Homo sapiens: one gene and its partner. The protein of the gene in region 2 interacts with the protein of the main gene of each other region in a pairwise test. Each region holds a gene or a part of one and is shown on either strand. Other genes may lie near its edges.

What was found.
Region 1: the proteins of PRICKLE3 (region 2) and SULT2B1 interact in binary tests that used the Homo sapiens proteins (3 or more experiments, as listed by UniProt).

What each region holds. Positions count from the first base shown.
Region 1 is NC_000019.10:48,548,252-48,555,184, forward strand, and holds the start of SULT2B1 (sulfotransferase 2B1), read left to right. Parts: upstream 1-3,920; 5' UTR 3,921-4,001; coding exon 4,002-4,072; intron 4,073-6,933. UniProt on the Homo sapiens protein: Sulfotransferase that utilizes 3'-phospho-5'-adenylyl sulfate (PAPS) as sulfonate donor to catalyze the sulfate conjugation. Responsible for the sulfation of cholesterol.
Region 2 is NC_000023.11:49,183,360-49,190,981, reverse strand, and holds the start of PRICKLE3 (prickle planar cell polarity protein 3), read left to right. Parts: upstream 1-4,608; 5' UTR 4,609-4,684; coding exon 4,685-4,726; intron 4,727-6,088; exon of another isoform or gene 6,089-6,156; intron 6,157-6,271; coding exon 6,272-6,357; intron 6,358-7,064; coding exon 7,065-7,248; intron 7,249-7,622. UniProt on the Homo sapiens protein: Involved in the planar cell polarity (PCP) pathway that is essential for the polarization of epithelial cells during morphogenetic processes, including gastrulation and neurulation.

The sequences.
Region 1 (6,933 bases), on a different chromosome or scaffold from region 2:
GATGGTTGGATGGATGGATGAATGGATGGAGGATGCATAGAAAGATGGATGCATAGATGGCTGGTTGAATGGATACCTGGCTGAGTGGATGAATAGAGGATGGATGGATGGATAGAAGGATGGTTGAGTAGATGCTTGGATGGATGAATGGATAGACAGTGATGAATGGATGGCAGGATGGATGGATGAATGGATAGATGAAGGAATGGTTGGGTGATGGATGAATAAATGGCTGAATGAATGCAGGATGGATGGATAGATGGATGGTTGGATGGTTGGGTGGCTAGATGAATGGATGGAAAATGGATGGATGGGTGATGGATGGCTGGATAGATGGATGGTTGAGTAGATGGTTGGATGGATGAATGGATGGATAGATGATGAATGGATGAAGAGGTGGATGGTTTGATGGCTGATGAATGGATGGAGGGATGGATGGTTGGATGGGTAGATAGATGGATGTTGAATGGATGATTGGATAAGTGGTTGGGTGGCTGAATGAATGGTTGGGTGGATGGTCGGGTGGATGGATGATGGATGAATAGAGGGACAGGTGGATGCATAGATAGAGGGATGAACAGCTGGAGGGATGAATGGATGTATAATCCTTGCTCCTCTCACTACCCATGACCAAGTGGCTCTGGGTTTTCCACTTGCATTTTCCCACACTCTTCATCTTTTTTTTTTTTTTTTTTTAATTGAGACCGAGTCTTGCTCTGTTGCCCAGGCTGGAGCACAGTGGCACAATCTCGGCTCACTGCAATCTCCACCTCCTGGGTTCAAGCAATTCTCTGCCTCAGCCTCCTGAGGAGCTGGGATTATAGGCACCCACCACCACTCCCGGCTAATTTTTGTATTTTTAGTAGAGACGGGGTTTTACTATGTTGGCCAGGCTGGTCTTGAACTCCCGACCTCGTGATCCACCCGCCTGGGCCTCCCAAAGTGCTGGGATTACAGGCATGAGCCACCAAGCCCAGCCCACTCCTTCATCCTTCTGGTCTCGTCCTTGTCTCCCAGATGTCCAAGACCCTCAGATTCATTTCTGGGGGTTGATGGTCTCCACTAGTATCTCTGCACTCTCACAATTGGCTAAAATGTCACTCTGGTGTCTTCTGGTTCCTCCTTGCCACCTCTGTAGGAGTCTGGACCCCTCGCCTTCCAGAATCAGGCTTTTGCATCTCCTCAGCTCCCTCCTCATTCTCCACAGAGATTCAGTGGACTTCTCCTGGCACCACCATGACCTTCACTCATTCCATCACGTCTTCCTGTGACAATTCATTCATTCCATCAACAGGCACTTATTGAGCATTTACTATATTCCAGGCTCTTCCCTTGGGAAATAACCGCAGATTTGACATAGAACAAGCCCTTCTTTCATGGGGTTGACAGTCTAGTGGGGAGATAGATGGTAAACAAGACAAAGAAGCAAAACATTTAGGAGGTCAGATGGTGACGAGTGCTATGGGAAAAAGTAAAACAGGAAAGAGGAATGGAGAAGTTGGTGGACGAGCCTGGGGGAGGTGACACTGGGCAGAGTCAGACGATAGGAGCCCACGAAGCTCCCAGGTATCAGGAACATGCGGGAATAGCAAGGGCAAAGGCCCTGCAGTAGGAGCCTCCCCTGGGTCTTAGGCCGCCTAGTTTGGCCAGTTTCTTTCCATTGCCCACTCAGGCACAACCTCAGGCCCTACTGCTCCCCAACCTTCCTGTGCCCCGGGGATGCCTCCGCACCTGCCTGCGAGTTTCCCTCTCAGGATCCCTAAGGACCTGGGCATTCCCTTCCCCAGACTCTCCCTAACCCCCCACCCCAGCAGCACACAGAGCCAGGGACAAAGGGTCATTGAATAGAAAACAAAGGTGAAGACAGCCCAGCCGGAGGCCTGGTGGGGTGTCATGGTTCAGTCCCCCACCTCCGACATCAGAGGGGTTCACTCAGCCTCAGAGGGGGATGCCTGGCCCTCTCACCCTTCCACCCACCCTGCAAGAGAGCCTTTTTATCAGCAGGAACATCAAGGCTTAACACTGAAAGTATCAAGGCAGAATGTTGAGGATGTGGACTCGGTAGTGGCTGGGGGCAGGGGCGGGTGCTCCCACAGCTCAGCCTCCTGGAGACGGGTCTTGGGGTGGTGAATTGAGAGATGGGATACCCCAGAACCCTCCTTTTCTGCTTACCATCAGAGTGAAGGCGGGCAGTGCTGTGTGCCCTGGGGGAAGCCACATTACCTCTCTGGGCCCCCTTCCTGCATCTGTTAGGTGAGTCTGACGTCTTCCATCCCCCTCACCTATGCAACAATAATTGGTCAGTATATACAATTTTATTTGTTTTGGCTTTTTTTTTTTTTCTTTTTGAGATGGAGTTTCACTCTTGTTGCCCAGGCTGGAGTGCAACAGTACAATCTTGGCTCGCTGCAACCTCTGCCTCCAGGGTTCAAGTGATTCTCCTGCCTCAGCCTCCCGAATAGCTGGGATTACAGGCACCTGCCACCATGCCCAGCTAATTTTTTGTATTTTTAGTAGAGATGGGGTTTCACTATGTTGGCCAGGCTGGTCTTGAACTCCTGACCTCAGGCGATTCACCCGCCTCGGCCTCCCAAAGTGCTGGAATTACAGGCGTGAGCCATTGCACAGGCTTTCTTTTGGCATTTTTTTTTTTTTTTTGAGATGGAGTCTCTCTCTGTCGCCCAGGCTGCAGTGCAGTGATGTGATCTCAGCTCACTCCAACCTCCACCTCCCAGGTTCAAGCGATTCTCGTGTCTCAGCCTCCCAAGTAGCTGGGATTACAGGCACCTGCCACCACTGGTGGGGAGACTGGCTTCATGACTCCAGGACTCTGAGGGGTCAGGGACCAACAGCTGGGGAGGGCCAGGGTTTGGGGTGGGGGCAGAAGAGAAGAGAACACCGTCTATGCTGAGCTCACTGTGTACCAGATCCTCCACCAGCAGCTGAGAGTGTCTCCCTCAGTCCTCACAACAGCCCGATGGGTGCCATTCACAGATGGGGAAACTAAGGCAAGATGAGCCTATGAGCAAGATGGTTCCCGGCCCCACAGCTGGGAGGCACTGGAGCTGGGATTTGAACCAGGGCTGTGACCTTCAGACTCTCACGCCCAACCATATCTGGCAGTTGTCTCTCATATCTGTGTCTCTCCCTGTCCCTGACCTTTCTATGTATCTCTGTCTCTGCCCTCTGTATATCGCTGCTGGGTCTCTCAGGGTCTCTGACCCCTGTGTGTCTCTGTCTCCTCTGGGTGTCCGTGTGTCTCTGTCTCCGCCCTCCGTGTATCTCTGTTGCGTCTCTCAAGGTCTCTGGCCCCTGTGCATCTCAGTCCCCTCCTGGTCTCTGTCTCCCATGCCCTCTGCCCTCTCCCTTTCTCCCTGGCTCCCGCCCTGTCTGTGCTGCCGTGGTCCTGGCTGTGCCTCTGTCCCTGTGTCTGTTTCCAGGGTGCCCCTTACGCGTCAGCCCGTGAGGGCAAGTTTCTGTCTGCCCCTTCCCCAGCGGTGGCCTAGTGCTTGGAACAGCGCCTGGCAGACAGGAGATGCTCAGTAAATATTTCTCAAATGAATAAAGGAATGAATGAGTGAATGAATGAATGAATGAATGAACTCGCTGAGATGGGCGAGATCAGCGCCATTTCCCAAATGAGCAACGTGGGCTCCAGGTGGGTGCCCACAGGCCCAGAACTGCCAGCCCGGAAGGTTCTGGCGTGGGCTTGGCACTGACCCCCTGGACTCTGCCCCCAGCTGAGCACCAGACGCCAGGACGTGCCCATCACTGCTCCTCCCCGCCCTCAGAGCAGGGTGGCTCCCTCTGGCCTCTCCCCGCTGTTGGAGGCGTGGGTAGCAGCTGGGAGAACCGGCTGGGTGCTGCCCCTCCCCTTGGGCCGGGCACGGAGTAGGCACCTGGCGGGCTCCCCAGGTGGCAGACGCTGTCGCTGCGCACACCTGGCCTCTGTGCCGCCTGCTCCCTGCTCGTCCTCCCCTCCCCACCCTCACCCACCTGCCATGGACGGGCCCGCCGAGCCCCAGATCCCGGGCTTGTGGGACACCTATGAAGATGACATCTCGGAAATCAGGTGAGGCCCAGACCTGGGCAGGAGCCAGGAGATCCCAGGGAGGAGGTGGCTGTTTGGGGGAGCCGGGGACTGTGGCAAGGGTGGCCTCCAGCCACCCGCAGCCGCAGGCCTGGCCCAGACTTAGCTGGAGGGGCTGGGCTGGGCTGGGGCATCCAGTGTGGTGTATAGGTCCCTCCTGAGAAGGGAGTGAGGACCCGACCGTGTTGAGTCACCAGTGGGGATGCCTGGGGTGTCCCTGTCGCTCTCCGGGCCTCAGTTTTTCTGTCTGTCAAAGGGGCCCACAAGCCCTGTGTCTCCCTGATAGAGCAGTGGAAGAGAGCAGGCAGCTTGGTGCATAGTAGTTGCTCAGGAAACACAACAGCCTGTAGTACCCAGGACACCCCATGCAAGCCCTGAAATAACGGGGGTGCTTGGGGGTGAAATGGGAGAGACTGGGATGCTGCTGAGACCCCCAGAGGGAGAAGCTGTGTTCTAGGGCACTTGGGGCGGAGAGGGCAGGCTCTGGACTCTTCAGGTCTCCTAACAGTGGTTAGGGCAGAGCACTGCCCACTTCCATGAGCTCAGCGTGACTCCCTCTTCCTGGGGATGAGTCAGACACTTTGACAGTACCTGCTTTCCAGATGGGGAAACTGAGGCTGGGAGGGAACGCGACATGACCGCAATTACGCAGCTAGAAGCAAATCTGAACCCGGTCTGTCTCACGCCAGAGCCTGTGGTTTCTCCTGCTCCTCACAGCCTTGGTGATGTCCCCTTTACACCCCTCCCCGTGGCTCCATCTTTTAGGGGAGCGCAGAGGCCCAGAGAGGGCAGGCAGCCTGCCCCAGATCACACAGCAAACTGCTGAGACAATCTCCAACCCCTCGTATCTTGCACTCTTGCCAAGTGAGACCTTCCTGGCAGCCTGGGCCCCTCCAGCCACCGTGGGCTGTGAGGAGGGAGACAACCAAGACCTGTTCTCAGCCCAGTTGCCTCATTCCTTTCTTATTTTATTTTATTTTTTTGAAATGGAGTTTCGCTCTTGTTGCCCAGGCTGGAGTGCAATGGCACGATATCAGCTCACTGCAGCCTCCGCGTCCTGGGTTCAAGTGATTCTCCAGCCTCAGCTTCCCAAGTAACTGGGATTACAGGAGCCCGCCACCATGCCCGGCTAATTTTATTTTTGTATTTTTAGTAGAGAAAGGGTTTCACCATGTCGGCCAGGCTGTTCTTGAACTCCTTGCCTCAGGTGATCCACCTGCCTCGGCCTCCCAAAGTGCTGGGATTACAGGCGTGGGCCACCACGCCTGGCCGCCTCATTTCATTCCACTGTTTCAGGCCCTCCCCTCCCCTCCCTCAGCCAGAAGCTGGGGCATGAAGAGGCCTTCCTGGGTGCCTGGGACTCCAGAGACAGGAGCAGTTCAATCCTGATTGCTGTGTGACCTAGACAAGCTTCCTGATGTCTCTGGGCCTCCTGGGCTGAGAGCTGTGACCAGGCTGGCCCAGTTCTGCGTGAGGGAGGCCCCAGCATTCTTTACTCAACATTGTCTAATCCAGGACTTCTGAGTTCTGCAATTCTTCTCTCCAGAGATAAACAGATAAGCCAGCTCGCCTCCAGGGTTCCCGCCTCTGGGAAGGCCTCACCCCCACCCCAGCCAGGCACCTGGGAGCCTTTTTTTTATCTCCGCGACGGCTCTGCCAGCTGGTCATAAAACGCCCTGAGTGACCTCGCTAAGTGGGTGACCTTGGTTTAGTCACTGACCCTCTGCGAAGCTCGGTTTCGTCATCGTGGGGGAGAATAGCCCTCCCCTGCAAGACTCCTCCAGCCCTGATGGCTGCAGAGCCCTGGGGGGGTGCCCTTAGGACCTCAAACTTCCAGGCACTTCTGGAATCCCCCAGGCCTGGAAGCGTGCCTCTCCCCAGCGAGCCTGCTGGAGCATCCCCCTGGGGCCCACTTCCTTCGGGATGTGCCCCTCCCAGACCCCCTCAGATACGCCACGTACCCCCCCAGATTCGCACCTCCTCCCAGGTTGCCCATCTCAGGGATGTCCCCTCCCCATCACTGGCTCAGATCCACAGGGCTTCTCCTGGCCCCGACTTCCCCCTCTGCTCGCCCCCAGCCTGTCAGTCCCCAACCCCCACCCCTGTCCCCTGACTCTCTGCCCTGGTTCTTCCTCTCGGTTGCCACAGCCCCAGCTCAGGCCTCCTCATCTCCCCCCAACCTCACCACTCCAGCCTTGGCTGTCCCAGGCTGCTCCTCCCCTCCTCCCAGCCATCCAGTGAATTCCTCAGCGCCCAGCCCTCACCCACCCCGCCCCCCCAGCCTCCTCACCTGCATTCCAGCTACTCTACTGCTTTTTTTTTTTTTTTTTTTTTTTTTTTGAGACTGAATCTGGCTCTGTCACCCAGGCTGGAGCACAGTGGAACGATCTCGGCTCACTGCAACCTCCGCCTCCCAGGTTCAGGTGTATTACCTCATCTAATCCTCACAGCCATCTGAGATGAACCCACTTTGACTGCTGTCATCCTGTGTCAGAGATGAGGCCCAGAGAGGTTGAGTAACTTGCCTAGGGTCACACAGCTGCCAAGCAGGGCACGGCCAGGATTTGAACCAGGGAAGCCTGACTGTTATCATGCCCTGGACAGGGAATTTAGGGATGATGAGCAAGACCAGGAAGGAGCGAGATCCAGGAGGTAGACTCAGCCCAGATGGGAGGTGAAGCGGGCGCTCTGAGGTTCTAGCCTCCGAGTAGCTGGGATGACAGGCGCGTGCCACTGCGCCCAGTTAATATTATTACTATTATTTTTTTGAGACGGAGTCTCACTCTGTCGCCCACGCTGGAGTGCAGTGGCACGATCTCGGCTCACTACAACCTCGGCCTCCC
Region 2 (7,622 bases):
TCAGACGAGCTCACCAATCCGGGAGGAGGGGATAGATCTGCCGCCTCTCCCCAACGCTGGAGGGGAGGGAAGTAGTGTGGAATTTCAAAGGAGGAAGAGGGATAGGGTGGGGTCCTGGAAAGGTTTGCCGGCCTTCTTGCTGGGCCTTAAAAGAGAAGTGAGGGTCGGGGCTTGGTGGCTCATGCCTGTAATCTCAGCACTTTGGGAGACCGAGGCGGGCGGGCCGCTTGAGCCCAAGAGTTCGAGACCAGCCTGGGCAACATGATGAAATCCCACCTCTACAAAAAATACAAAAATTAGCCGGGCGTGGTGGCATGCATCTGTGGACCCATCTACTCAGGAGGCTGAAGTGGGAGGATCACTTAAGCCCAGGAGGTTGAGGCTGCCGTGAGCTATGATCCTGCCACTGCACTCCAGCCTGGGCAACAGAGCGAGACCTTGTCTCAAAAAAAAAAAAAAAATGGAAAGAAAGAAAGGAAGAAAAAAAGAAAGAAAGAAAAGAGGCCAGGTGAGGTGGCTCATGCCTGTAATCCCAGCACTTTGGGAGACCAAGGTGGGCAGATCACCTGAGGTCAGGAGTTCGAGACTAGCCTGGCCAACACGGTGAAACCCCGTCTCTACTAAACATATAAAAATTAGCCGGGCATGGTGGCGCACGTCTGTAGTTCCAGCTACTCTGGAGGCTGAGGCAGGAGAATCGCTTGAATCTGGGAGGCGGAGGTTCCAGTGAGTCGAGATTGCGCCACTGCACTCCAGCCTGGGCAACAGAGCGAGACTCTGTCTCAAAACAAAAAAAAAAAGAAAAAGAGAAGTGAGATTTCCCTCAGATAGGAGGGAGGATATAGGGGAGGAAAGGCAGGAGGAAAAGGCTAAGGGGTGGCTAAAAAGTGGGGGAAGGCAAGAAGGTGGCAATACTTGGATGGAGGTAGCTTCTGACACTGGGTTAGCCAGGATGGAAAGGGCATCCCACATCTAATTCATCAAAAAATCCTGTGGGTCCTACCTTCAAAAAATATATCCTTCATCTTCCACTGTCATCTCTCCCAGACCTCTTCTCAGGTCTCCATTTCCATTCTGTTCTACTCACAGCATCTGGAGGGATTCTGTTAAATCCTAAATTAGGCCACAGTCCTCCTGTGTCAGAACTCTGCCCTGTCGCAGGCTGGGCGTGGTAGCTCACGCCTGTAATCCTAGCACTTTAGGAATGCTAGACTTGAACTCCTGGGCTCAGGTGATCCTCCCACCTCAGCCTCCCAAGTAGCTGAGACTATAAGTGTGAGCGACCATGCCCAGCTCACTTTATTTTTTCCATTTCACTTATTATTGTCACCCTATGTTATACGAGATAATCCACTCATGCATCATGTTCGCTGTGTGAAGTCTATCTCTGCTTCAGTATAAGCTCCACAAAGACAGGGATCTTTGTTTTGCTCAATATAGTTTATCACAAATGGCTAGAACAGTACCTGTTAAGGGACTATTTTTTTGGTTGGAGGAAGGAGACTGTAATCTCTTTGGTACCTAACCCAGTGGGGGCAAGGTCAGGTATATCTTCTCAGCAGAGGCAGCTGGGATGAAGCTGGCTCCAGGAAAGAAGAAAAGACATAAAGCCAGGACAAAGGCATAACAGCCCAACCCCTATCTGAGGGCGCCACCCATGTCAGACCCCCTCTCCTTTCTGTGTCTTTTGTCTCTACAGGTCAGTGAAGCCCAGGAGGACCTGGGGGGGGCAAGAGCTCAGGAGAAGGCCTGCCCCCCTTCCCACCCCTATACCCTAGGTCTCCACCCCTCAAGCCAGGAGACCCTGTCTTTGCTGTTTATATATATATATATTATATATAAATATCTATTTATCTGTCTGAGCCCTGCCCTCACTCCACTCCCCTCATCCACTAGGTGCCCAGTCTTGAGTGGGCCCCCTCTCTTACCCCGTCCCTTTCCCTGCATCCCTTGGCCCCTCTCTGTTTACCCTCCCTGTCCCCTGAGGTTAAGGGGATCTAAAAGGAGGACAGGGAGGGAACAGACCTCGGCTGTGTGGGGAGGGTGGGCGTGACTTCAGACTCTCTCCTCTCTCTCCCTCCACTCCTCCCAACTCTGGCCTTGGTTCCTCCAGCAATGCCTGCCTGAACAAAGGCCGTTAGGGAAATCCAACTCCAGGGTTAAAGAAAGGCAGAGATTGGGGGGGCTTGGGGTAGAGAGGACAGTTTAGGACCCAAGGTGGTCTTGGAGAGGAGGTGTGGAGTGGAGGGGTCAGCAGGGGGGTTGGGTTCCAGACAGAGTGGATCTGGAGTCTGAAGGAGAGGAGTGCGCTAGAGCATTCTGGGGTGGGGCTTGGAAGGGCGCTGAGGGCAGGGTTCTAGAAGGGGCGAGGCTTTAAGCGAGGCAGAATGGTGGGCTCCAGAGTAGGTGGGTCTTGGATTGGTACCAGAGCCTATGGAAAGGGTGTGGCTTGGAACATTTGGGAGACTGAGCTTGATTCTAAAGGGGACAGATCTTGAGCAAGGCAAGAAGTGGGATTCAGGAATGGGCCAAGCCAGGGTTCCAGACAGGGTGGGGCTTAGAATGGGGCTTCCATGGTGGTTTCAGAAAGGGCAGCCCCTCCCCATGGTGCAGTGAAGAAAATGTTTTACAATGGCTGGGTTTGGGCAGTGGAGAGGGGACTTGGATAGGAGCTTCCAGATGGGTTTTGTTAGGGGTGGGGGAGAATGGCTCTGGCTACGACTTGGGACGGAAGTGGCCTGAGAAGAGTCGAGTGATATGGCTTGTAGGGTGAGGCGTGGGATCCAGAGAGAAGCACCCCACCACACACACCCTTCCCCACTCCCGTGATGAAACAGCTAGGTTAATAGGAGGACAGAACCAACGGGTCTGTGGGACTGGCCCACCCCTCTTCCCCCTTCCCCTGCGCCCTCCCTCCCTCCACACCTCCACCCGTCCTGGGGTGGTTGGAGGCCTGGTCTGGAGCCCCTATCCTGCACCCTCTGCTATGTCTGTGATGTCAGTAGTGCCTGTGATCGTGTGTTGCCATTTTGTCTGGCTGTGGCCCCTCCTTCTCCCCTCCAGACCCCTACCCTTTCCCAAACCCTTCGGTATTGTTCAAAGAACCCCCCTCCCCAAGGAAGAACAAATATGATTCTCCTCTCCCAAATAAACTCCTTAACCACCTAGTCTACCCGGCTCTGATTTCTCAGTGTGTCTTTTTCGGGCGCCGGGGAGGAGGTTGGCCGGGGGAGAAAGGAGGGAGAGGTGGTGAGAACAAGCTCCACCCGGACCCACCGACCGCAGTTCAGCTTGCTGCACCATTTCAGGCCCCTTCAAAAGTGTTAGGCAGAGCAGCATCCTCTGGGAAGCCTCTCCTGCCAATCACTCTGTCACTCTCTGAGTAGCCCTGCTCACCCTCCCACTACTGGCCACCAAATGCCCGGTCTTTCTAGGAGTTGGTTCTAATTCTGGTCCCTTAGCCAAGCCTCTTCCGAGCCCCTGTGGAACCCTCTCCTCAAATCCCCAAGGGGTCCGAATAGGAGGAAACCTCACATTGCCTGACCCCATCCCTAATCTTCAGACCCTACTGTCTCTCCTTTCCCTGCCTCCGCCCAGGCTGGAGAAATGGGAGACAGGTTAGGCAAGGAGGGGAGGTGGGGCGCCGGGGTGACTCCTTAGTTCATTAGTTATTCTCTTTTACCTCTCCACTCCACGGGAAGTGACAGGGACATGTGTAATGGGGGGCGGGGAGAGGTCCCCGGGGCCCGCGATGAAGGGCCTGGCCGCTGCAGTCTCCGTGCATAGAGACCCGGGCCGAGTTCTGACTGAGGCCATGGGACCCCCTCCCCCCAGCCCGGAGGCACAGCCAAGCCTGAGAGCGTGAAGGAGAGGCTCCCCGCCCTGGAACTGAGCTGGGGAAGGGGATAACTGGAGAGAGAAAAATGTGGGTGGGGGAGGGAAGGCTTTAAGATCTACTTCTCAAGACTTGGGGTGGGGGGACGGGGCTGGACAGCTAGGCTTATAAGGATGAGGGGAGAGAGGGGACGAGGGCTTTGGAACCTGGCCTCGCTGAGAGGGGAATGAGAAGGGAGGAGTGCGTATAAGATCTAGCTCTCTGGTGGCTAGGGCCAGGTTCCCAGGTTCCCAGCGAGCACCAGCTGGGGCTGCGGGTGAGGTTGGGGCCCATTGTTGCAGCATTCATCGGGGAGACCCTCGGAACCTCACCAGTGGGGAGGAGCCAAGAGGTGTCTTTAACCCCTCTCCCAAATAAGCATCCGAAATAAATCGACACAAAACGTCAACACAAGCACCCTAGCGCGCCACCCCTCTCAGTCCAGTTGGCCACCTCTGAGTCTCCCCATCCTCCACTACAGAACCTTCAAGCCCCAGGTCCCGTGAGAGGCCACGTGGCACGCCGGGATTCTGGGGGTCGTGCCTTGTGACGCCCCGCACCGGCCCGGAGCGGGAGGGCAGAGGCCTTTCCCGCGGGGCACTCCGGGCTACGTGCAGTTCACCTCTAGGCAGGGGGCGCCCTGGCAGCGGAGAGACCACATGCCCGGGGGCGGGCCCTGCGGGGCGCGCTCCTCCCACGAGGGTGTCAGGTTTACGGAACCGAGTTCCCAGGCCGGACGCGCGGTGGCCTGACGGTCGCAAGGATTACATTCGCCTGACCCGGCCCGGCTTGACCCTGCCCGGGCGCGCCATGTTCGCGCGTGGGTCCCGGAGGCGCCGCTCCGGGCGTGCGGTGAGCGGGAGTCAGGGCAGCGGTGGGGGTCGGGGGTAAACTGAGGCCCAGGCAAGGGGGCAATGGATAGGCATAGCGAATAGGTGCCCCACAGAGGATCTGGGAATCCCATCCCCTGCATTCCCAGACCTGGGGCTGGGGCTGCTGGAGGCGAATGGATGGAGGAAGGTGTAGATCTGGTGGCCCAAACCCCCTAATCACCTCTCCACACACTTTCATCAGCACTCCTGGGACCTGGTGGGGACCCCTCTCTTATGAATTGTGGGAGGGAATCCTGAGGGCCAGAGAACTGGGTCTTGAAGCCTTAGGTTGAGCAGGAACCTCCTGAGCTGCTGCTTTTTTTTTTTTTTTTTTTTTTTGAGACTGAATCTCTGTCACCCAGGCTGGAGTGCAGTGGCGCTATCTCCGCTCACTGCAACCTCCGCCTCCTGGGTTCAAGCGATTCTCCTGCTTCAGCCTCCCATGTACCTGGGATTACAGACGCCCGCCACCGCGCCCGCCTAATTTTTGTATTTTTAGTAGAGACAAGGTTTCACCATGTTGGCCAGGCTGGTCTCGAACTCCTGACCTCAGGTGATCCGCCCACCTCGGCCTCCCAAAGTGCTGGGATTATAGGCGTGAGCCACCGAGCCTGGCCGACCTCCTCAGCTTCTAAAGGACACAGTACCTTGGAGGAATGTGCACGGAGGGATGGAGTCCTACACTCCTGGGATGCCGAAATGCTGAGAGTCAAGAGACTGGGATTTGGGGGGACAAGGCTTCCAGGGTTCCGCCTGAGCAAGGGAGTTTTTGACTTCTTAGATAGGAGGTTCTTTCACTTCCTTTGGAGTGGGTCTCTGACCTGGGAATGTGGGGTCTGGGTTTGATGGTCCGGAGAAGGAATAAATAGCCCTAGGATGGGATGGGTAAAGGCCAAGGTTTCTTGGGATGGGGGTTTCTGAATGGAGCAGGGGCCTCCTGAGATCCTGGGGAGGGTCCCCAGTTCCTTGGGTATCAGGGCATGAGGCCAGGGTTTAGGGGAGGAGCTCCTGAGCTTCTGAAGAGAGGGGCAGGGTTCACGTGGGGATCTCAAGGAAGAATGCGGTCTCGTCTCCTACCCTGTGGAACTGGAGTGCTGCTGGCGGCGTAGATGGAGAGGGAACCGGGATGAGGCCGGGGAGAGGATGCCCAGAGTAGGGGTTCTGTGCTCTAGTGGGGAGAGTACAATGAATTATAGGGGAGGTGCTTGAGCCCTGGAAGGATCTAAGGCTGGTGGGAGGTGTCTGAGGCTAGGGGCGGACGGGGAGGGGGGTCCGAGGCCAGCCTAGGAAGGGGAATTCCCTGAAAAGGGGACATATAAGGAGGTGGCTCCAACTGCCCCGCCTCTGCCTCGGTTGTGTCCCGCTCCCCCGCACTCTGGGCGCTGTCCCAGCCTGCCCAGCGCTGCCCAGGTAAGACAGGCCCCAGCGTGCGGTCGCGGGCAATGAAGTGGAGGGGCGGGCGTTGACTTCTCCTTCCCTGCTTCCGCGCCTCACCCGGCCCTGCATCTGCCCCCGCCCACTGCAGCCTCCAGAGGCAGAGGACCCAGACCGGGGCCAGCCCTGCAACTCCTGTAGGGAGCAGTGCCCTGGCTTCCTGCTCCACGGCTGGAGGTAAGTGGCGCCCCTAAAGGGCCTCGCCTTTGTCAGAGCTCCGCCTTCGGGGGGAAATCCAGGAGCCTTACGCCACGCCCCTACGCTTGAGCTCCGCCTACAGAGGGATCTCAGTTGGGAAAAGAGCCTCAGGCTCAGATTCAGAGCCCCGCCCCCTGACTCATTCCCCAAAGTCCTTTCCCAGGAGAGCTCCACCCACTACGCAGCCCCGCCCCCAGAAGTGTTCTCCCGTAGCCGCGGAGTCGCATCCCTAGGGAGATTCTTCGTCTCTAACTCTGAGCGCCGCCCTCTGGCCTCCAGCACCCCTCTTAGACTCAGACCTACTCTCCCAGGCCCAGCGTCCTATCCTCCTGCTGGAGCCCTGCACCCAATAAACAGAGCCTACAGCCCCCAGACTCAGGCCCTACCCACAGGCTCAGAGCCCACAAGTTCAGAGCCTCACCACAGGTTAGATGCCTGTGTCTAGTGAAAGTTCCCCCACAAAGCATCCCACTCCCCACGACCTGTCCTCTGGCTCACAGCCCAGCCACACCCTGGCTCATAGGCCCACCTCCTGCAGCCCTGCCCCCAGGCCCAGATCCCTGTCCCTGCTCACAGACCTTTGGTGGTGATAATCTGTATGTCCCCGCTCCTCCATTGGACCTGGGCTGCCGAGGGGTTCGGGTGGGCAACTCCTTAGTAATTGACCCCCATCCCGGCCCCCTCAGAAAGATCTGCCAGCATTGCAAATGCCCGCGGGAGGAGCATGCAGTGCACGCGGTGCCTGTGGACCTGGAACGCATCATGTGTCGGCTAATCTCGGACTTCCAGCGCCACTCCATCTCCGACGACGACTCAGGCTGTGCATCGGAGGAGTATGCCTGGGTGCCCCCAGGCCTTAAGCCGGAGCAGGTGACCAGAGGCCAGCCCTCCACTCTTGCTGTCCAGTGGGTGCACACTAATGCTCACACACACACACACACACTCAGGTGGGAACCTATTTCTGGGGCTACGCTAGAGTGTGCAGTCAGACCGAGGGTCCTTCTGGCCCCTCTGTGATGGAAGAGTGGTCAGCCCCCCATACCTTGGGTGACTGAGGGACCAGTTCCTCAGGGCCTGTTCACCCCAATCCTATTATTTTTGATTGATTGTTTTTGAGACAGGGTCTCACTCTGTTGCCCACCACAGCCTCCCTTGTAGCTGGGACTGCAGGTGCATGCCACCCTGCCTGGCTATTTTTAAAATTTTTTTGTAGAGACAGGGTCTCCCTATGTTGCCCAGGCTGA